Homo sapiens: one gene and its partner. The protein of the gene in region 2 interacts with the protein of the main gene of each other region in a biochemical or structural test. Each region holds a gene or a part of one and is shown on either strand. Other genes may lie near its edges.

The links.
Region 1: the proteins of ANAPC2 (region 2) and ANAPC4 form a complex in vitro, tested with the Homo sapiens proteins (one study listed by BioGRID).

What each region holds. Positions count from the first base shown.
Region 1 is NC_000004.12:25,408,220-25,411,884, reverse strand, and holds part of ANAPC4 (anaphase-promoting complex subunit 4), read right to left. Parts: intron 2,188-3,665; coding exon 2,094-2,187; intron 1-2,093. UniProt on the Homo sapiens protein: Component of the anaphase promoting complex/cyclosome (APC/C), a cell cycle-regulated E3 ubiquitin ligase that controls progression through mitosis and the G1 phase of the cell cycle.
Region 2 is NC_000009.12:137,178,396-137,182,060, forward strand, and holds part of ANAPC2 (anaphase-promoting complex subunit 2), read right to left. Parts: intron 3,468-3,665; coding exon 3,286-3,467; intron 2,535-3,285; coding exon 2,393-2,534; intron 2,133-2,392; coding exon 2,057-2,132; intron 1,990-2,056; coding exon 1,786-1,989; intron 1-1,785. UniProt on the Homo sapiens protein: Together with the RING-H2 protein ANAPC11, constitutes the catalytic component of the anaphase promoting complex/cyclosome (APC/C), a cell cycle-regulated E3 ubiquitin ligase that controls progression through mitosis and the G1 phase of the cell cycle.

The DNA.
Region 1 (3,665 bases), on a different chromosome or scaffold from region 2:
GACACCCCGTTGGTGTCAAAATTGGTTGGTGTCAGGAGGAAAAAAATTTCTCTCATTTTGTTGTCAGAAACACTGAGTAAAAAGTGCTCAGACACTAACCTACAGACTGCTTCTGTGCTAAGTGCCAGGCATTAGTCTAAGTGCTTATGTAGATTAATTTATTTAATCTCCACACCAGTTTTTTGAGGGCAGCATTATTACCATCTTCATTTTACAGATGAGAAACTATGGCACAGAGAGGTTAGGCAACTTGCTCTCAGCCGTGTTACTACGAAGTAGTAGAGCAGCTTCCAACCCAGAAAATCCAGCTTTCAGAGCACCAACTTTTACCCACCACACAATACTGACCCATGTACCCTAAAGAAAGTACACAGATCAAGTATTTAGCACTTGATTTTTGCAGTGTAAGAAAACAGTTTCACTGATATTTCCTCACTAGAATTCATTATGGAACTCAATAGTGAGTTCCATTAGGTCTGTAGCTAAGATCAGGCCTTTCTTATTCAAACACGTAAGATGTGGGGCAAATAAAAGAGGACAGGACCTATTTTTAGCCTGGCAAAGTTCCCTGGATCAATAATAGCCAAAATAGCAACAGGGTCCAGGTGCCACTACTCTTGACGCACTGCCACTGACCCTCTCCAGACATCCTGCCTTATTCCCTGGGCATCCTGATTAAATACAGTAAATAAGTAGCGTCTCCTGTACCTTTATCCTCCCTCCATTCAATAGCCAACTTGCACCAATGCATCTCCTTACTGACCTCAAGACTCTCTGGCAATACATAATAGGTTCTGCCTTGAAAAAGAATTTGGACTATATGCAAAGTTCTTGGCATCAAAGAATTCTCTCCCTCATTCATTCATTCATTCATTCATTCATTCACAGAAGCAGCAACCAAATACAAGTGGCAGAAATTGCTATAGGTTGAGTTTCACTTACCCAAAATGCTTGGGTCTGTAAGTGTTTGGGATTTTTTTGGAATTTGGAATATGTGCATATACATAATGAGATATCTTGGGGATGGAACTCAAGTCTAAACACGAAATTCATTTATGCTTCATGTACATCTTATACAATATATTTAATAATTTTGTGCTTGAAACAAAGTCTTGACTGCATTTTGACTGGGACCCATCATATGAGGTCAGGTATGGAATTTTCCACTAGTGGTGTCATGTCGGTGCTCAAAAAGTTTTAGATTTTGGAGCATTTTAAGATTTCAGATTTTTGGATTAAGATGCTCAACCTGTACTGCCAGTCTAGTTAAAACCTCAGGCTTTCACATTAACAGAATCCTAGCTCCATCACTAACCAGCTTGTGTGATCCTGGGCTTCTCTAACCTTCTGTTTCCTCATTAGTAAATGGTGATACCAAGTACCTACCCATAGAATCTTGTGAGGATTAAAGCAGGTATTGTGTGTATATGGCAGACTAAGCACCCCATAAATGTTTAGTTAGACTAAGCACCCACTACCTTAAAGATCTAAGCAATTGCTAAATCTGGTCAGATTATTCTTTCAGACATCAAAGAAATACGAGCTTTAAAATATTTTCATCTAAAATGGTAAGATGTGCTGGCATATTTAATGGTTGCTATTATGTGCTGCATCCCTAATAATGCTGGATAGCTTTACGGTATTAACATTCTGACATTCTAGAAAATGAAAGGTATAACAAGTACACATGCACACACACACACACCAACTACAACCCGAGGAGAATACAGTTGAGCATCCCTGTGCTTTCAGAAGATAATAAATTGGAATTGGCAAAAAAGACTTTTCTCACTATTTGGCTCTATAGTTTCCCTCAAAATCCTATTTTTTACAGGGTGCAAAACACTTATATGAGAACACTTAGGAATAAGCAATCTTCCTACAGCGTAGTTAACTTCAGAGTGTCTTCTATCTATCATGGTGATGTCATACACTATTGGTTATTTTGCTGTTCCTATAATCAAATAAATATAAGTCTAATAAACTTAGGTAAGTGTTCAGCAAGTTTTCAGCAAAACTGTTAGCAGAACTATTCAAGACCTAGTCTTAAATAAAAACAAAAATGGCCAAAATCTGGTTGGTTCATGAAGTACCTTTAAGGTGGCTGCTATTTTGAAGAAAGTCATACCACTGGTTTCCTTCTGTGTTAGGGGGTGACACAAGATCATCATCTTCATCTTTCAAGTACTAGAAATACAGAATTAGAAATTTAAGTTTATTCATACCTGGAAGGGAAAATGGAAAAAGAAAAAAAGTAAAAGACAAAAAAAAGTTAAGTTTAGTAAATCAAAGACTTAGGGCCTAAAATCGGTTTATTTTTAACACTTTTTTAACTTAATAAGTTACTTTGTTTTATTGCCAAGTCCTCTGAAAGTGCATTACTATCATTCTAAGTGAGGTAGCCAAAATCTGCTATGTGTATGTGGCAGAATTAAGCCCTCCATAAATGTTAGCTAGCTACTATCTTAAAAATTAAAGAAACTGCTGAACAGTTGGTAGTTTGTTTAGTCAAGCAACTAAACAAACCACAAAGTATTAAAAGATTATTATGTTGTAGATGTAGAGATCACAAATCGAACTTAAATTGTGTTTCTTTTTCATGAGCATATTTTAATTTAACATATGCAAGTTATAAATTAGTTTCATAAGTATCCATTGTCAATGTACTGTCAATATACTCTATGGCAGTTGTTCTTCAAGTGAGATCCACAAGCCCCTGGGAATCCCCAAGATGCTTTTGGGGATCCACAAAGTCAATACTAGTTTTATAATAATGTAGCTGTCACCTGCCCTTTACACTATGCTAACATTTGTACTGATGGTGGGGAAAGCTGTAAGTGTCTCAGCCAAGAGTCAAGGTAGTAGTCCCAAATCATACCAGCAGTCACTGTATTCTTTTTCTGCCACATACTCATAGTTTCATTTATCTTTAATGAAGTCATTAAATTATTAACTTTATTTTCAACCCTTGAGTACGAATCTTTAATATTCTGTGTGACAGAATTGAGAGTTATACATAGGAACTTTTGCTACACAAAGTATGATGGTTATCTTGAGGAAAAGCACTTATGTTAAAAGCAAAAATAGGCTGGGCACGGTGGTTCATGCCTGTAATCCCCGCACTTTAGGAGGCCATGGCAGGCGTATCACTTGAGCCCAGGAGCTCAAGACCAGCCTGGGCAACATGGCAGGTCTCCACAAAATAAAGACAAAAATTAGCCAGGCATGGTGGTGTGTGCTTGTAGCCCCAGCTACAAGAGGCGAGTCCGAGAGGTGGAGGCTGCAGTAAGCTGTGATTGCACCACTGTACTACTCAGAGGAAATATCTTGTCTCAAAAAAAAAAAAATTTTTTTTTTTTTTGGAAAACCTGCATCTGCCCCTGTGTGCTTCACAACACAAAGACTTTTCTGATTAAATTGGTGGTGCTATTAATGAAATCTAGCTTATAGTTTGATAAAAGGTGGCGGCATTTAGAACAGCTGGATGACTCAGGGAACCAATACTTCCCAAATGACCAAAGCAGGATGTTACAAAATTATGCGTGGACAAAAGATCCGTTCAAAGTGCAAGAAGATGAATGAATTTTAATGTAAAAAACGTTCACTGATGCAATTTTAGATTCCACACTGAAACAAACCTTTAAGATACTATCACTTGTCCACAT
Region 2 (3,665 bases):
GGGCACTAGAGTGTGGCTGTCCCAGCACATCAGGCCTGAGCAACAGGAAGTGGCTGAGTCATGCCTGGGACCCAAGGCAGGACCCTGGAGGGAGGCCATTGGGGCCTTGCCTGGAAGCAACGCTGGAGAGCCTGAGGCAGCCAGAGGGGCAGGGGGAAAGGGACCGAGCACGGAGCCGGGCCACACGGATGATTTGTACCAGAACACAGCGGGGCACGGTGCCCGCAGGCTCCAGAGACACCAGGCTGTATCACAGGCCAGAGCTCGAGGTGTGGGGATGGCCAGGGTGCTCCTTTCCACCGAGAGCAGGTGCAAGCCACACAGACCCTCCACAAGCTGCAAGGGACACCTGGACTCTTCCAGAGCCAAGCTGAGGCCTGGAGGGAGGCAGCAGGCATTCGCCACCATGGTCAGCAGCCCGGCCCTACCACAGCCCCTTGGCCTCCTGCCCTGGGGGCCTCCGCCTGGCCCTCCCCTTGTCTGTCTCCGGAAGGAAGCTTCCCCCTTGGTTTCTAAAGTGGACACATCGCCCTGCCCTCCCCTAGGAGTAAGTTCCCTTGGTTTGTCAACACAGCAAGGCCCTCTTACTTGCAAAAGAAAAAGGAAAACACATCTAGGTCCAGCCTCCTTCACAGCAGACCTGGAGAAGCTGTGGACCCTCCCTTGAACTCAGCCCCGCCCGCCCGCCGGCCTCCTGGCGGCTCTGTCCTGAGGCTGCTCCTCCTGCCTGGGCCGAGGCTGGACCATCCCCTTCCTGGGGTACCTGGGGTTGGGGTCTGCAGACTGGATGCTGGCTGTGCCCCAGAACCCTCTCCTCACATGTCCCCCGCTGGGGTGCCCGCCTCCCCCCAGTCCTGAGCACTCGCTGGGCACACTGGAGGCCTCACAGGCCCCACACATCAGACAGAAAGCCCTGGAACCCGCCTGTGACGACCATCCCGACCCCTTCCTCCCCGAGCCGACACCTCCCACCTGTGACGACCATCCTAACCCTTCCTCCCCGAGCTGACACCTCCCACCTGACTATGAGCTCAGGGAAAGAACCGCCAAGCCTAGTTCCATCCCTCAGGCTCTGGACGCCTGTACTGGGACTGCTGGGATCTCAGCAGTGCTGCCAGGGGAAGTGAGCCAAACGTGGCCAATACCATCCTCTGGGCACACTGTCCCCATCTGCCAGTGACCTCCAGGCCAGGGCTCACTCCTCCACTCCCCACATCTGCTCCCCTCCTACTCCCACCACAGACCCATAGCCCCGGTCCTCAAGTACCACTGGAGCCTGCAAAGGCAGTTCTCGAGGAAACAGACCTGGAGAAGGGGGCAGGGCTGGGGTCCTGGGGGTCAGGTGCGCCTGGGAGTGCTGCCCTGGGCAGAGGGCAGCCCTGGCTCCCTAGCTGCCTCCCTGCAGTGACGCAAGGCACCCCAAGCCCCGGTTCTGAGAGGCAGAGGGTGGATAGCAAAAGAGGAGGAAACGCTCAGAGGGCAGGGCCTGCTGTGGCCACAGGGGTCCCCCTGAAGCAGTTCAGGAGACCTGGGCCCAGCACAGCCCACCCAAGCGCCTGTGGGCCGCGCGGACGCTCGCTCACAGGGGACACGGGGTTGCTGGGAGGAAGGCGGAGAGAGCGTGGGCCAGGCCCACTCCCTCTCCTGCAGAGGCGGCTGCGAGACAGGACCAACCCAGAGACACTCGGGTGACAACGGGGCAGCCACAGGCACCAGGCTGCTGGGAGCCCCGCAGTGCAGGGTAGGGGTGCCAAGAGCCCATGGGGTGGCCTGGCATGGAGGTACCTTGAGCTGCTCATACTTCTTGCAGTAAGCCTCCAGGGCTGCCCTGATATCCTCGGGGACCTCCAGCTTCTCGTCCTTGAAGGGCGGCCAGAACTCACTGGACAGGATGACAGCGTAGACCCCGAACGGTGGCTGCTCCTCTGCTGGCCGCTTCTCATCCTCCTCCCGGATGTTGGCATTGATGCGGCGGGAGTCCGCCATGTCCTGAGGAGGAGCCGGTGTCACGGGGGACCTGCGGGGCGGCCGGGCAGCGGGCGGGGCTGGGACCCACCTTCAGCATGACTTCACAGAAGTGCATTGGGGCCTCGCCAAAGCGCAGCTTCAGCAGCTCCACGTTGCGGATCTCCCTGGAAAGACGAGTGTCTGGGCAGGGGGTCGTGATGAGCCCCAGCCCCAAGGAGCACCTGTGGCAGGGCACGGGGGTGCCCCCCAGGCAGAGCAGGGAGCCTGTGTGGGCACCCCAATGGCTAGCACACCCCCAGCCAGGAGTGGGGGCGGAAGCACAGCTCCAACCAGGCCCCAGGCACGGCGTCAGGGCCCTGTCCCGAGAGAGGCTGGGCAAAGGCCCCGGCACCCCTGGAGATGGCCAGCGCGTCACAGGCCTCACCGCTCGGGGCTGAAGCTGAACTGGTGCAGCAGGCGGTCGGCCAGCAGCGAGCGGTACTCATTGATGAAGAGGTCCTTGCTGCCGTAGATGCTGACCAGCAGGCTGATGATGTCCGATGAACGCCGCTTGGAGCTCGACTTCCCTGGCATGGTGGGGGCAGGGGTGTCACCTGACAGGCACCTGGGCAAGGACAGGGCCGCCCTCCTCCCATCCCGCCCAGCCAGACGGCACAGCCCAGCATGGCTCTTCCTGAAGGCCCTCGAGGCTGGGAGCAGCCCTGAGCCTCCCGGGAGACCTGGAGTCAGGTCCTGGAGCAACAGCTTCAATCCCCAGCCCCTCTCACCCCACAGGGACCTTCCGGGACTCCCATGCAGGCTTAGGGGACAAGCCAAAGGTCCTGGGGTTTTCCTCTGAGAGAGACTAAAGATGTGTTGAAGACTTACCATCTGTGCCAGGGCAGGGGCCAGGCCTGGGCCCCATAGCCCTCAGAGCCCTCGCAGACGAGGGCCAGGCACAGATGGGCTCTGAGCAGGAGCTGGCACCCTAACGGGACTTTGAGGCCCAAATCAGTACAGAGCTCAGGGGTCACCCACATCTTCACTCCTCTGCCAGGTGCAGTGGCGGGGCAGGGACACCCCACAGCTCACAAGCGGTGGGAGGCAGGGCATCCCCCACGGCCAGAGTGACCAGCCACAGAGGAAAACAGCCCATCACCGGCCTGCCCAGGCTGGCAGGTGGCGGAGCACTGCCCTGACCTTTGACACCCTCAAGCCTCTGAGACACTAGCGACACCTGACACAGCCAAGCTCTGTGACAAGGGATGAGTCCAGAGCGGACGGCCTGGCTGAAGCGCCCCCCACACTGGTGAAAGGGACCATGTGGGGCAAGCTAACCTGGATCGGCATCCACAGGGTCCGGGACCCAGTCCTCTGGCTCGCCTGAGTCATCCTCACTGTCCTGGCCTGTCTCCAGGCTCGCCGGGTCGGTCTTGGACAGCTCAACAGCCAGGTCCCCTGTCCCGTCCGAGTCCCCCGTCAGCCCAGCCACAATCTGCCGCACTGTGTCCTCCCGCGTCCTGCCGATGTGAGTGCTGCTGTGGCCCACAGTGTGGACACCCCGCGCGCACCTCCCACCACTCATTCCAGTCCCGGCCCCATCTAGGCCAGCACCACCGACCCTGCCTCTACACTCAGTGGTGATGGGCTATGTACTAAACACAGGCCCGTCAGACTCCTTAAAAACAAATAAACCCAACGTTACTTGGGAGCAGCAG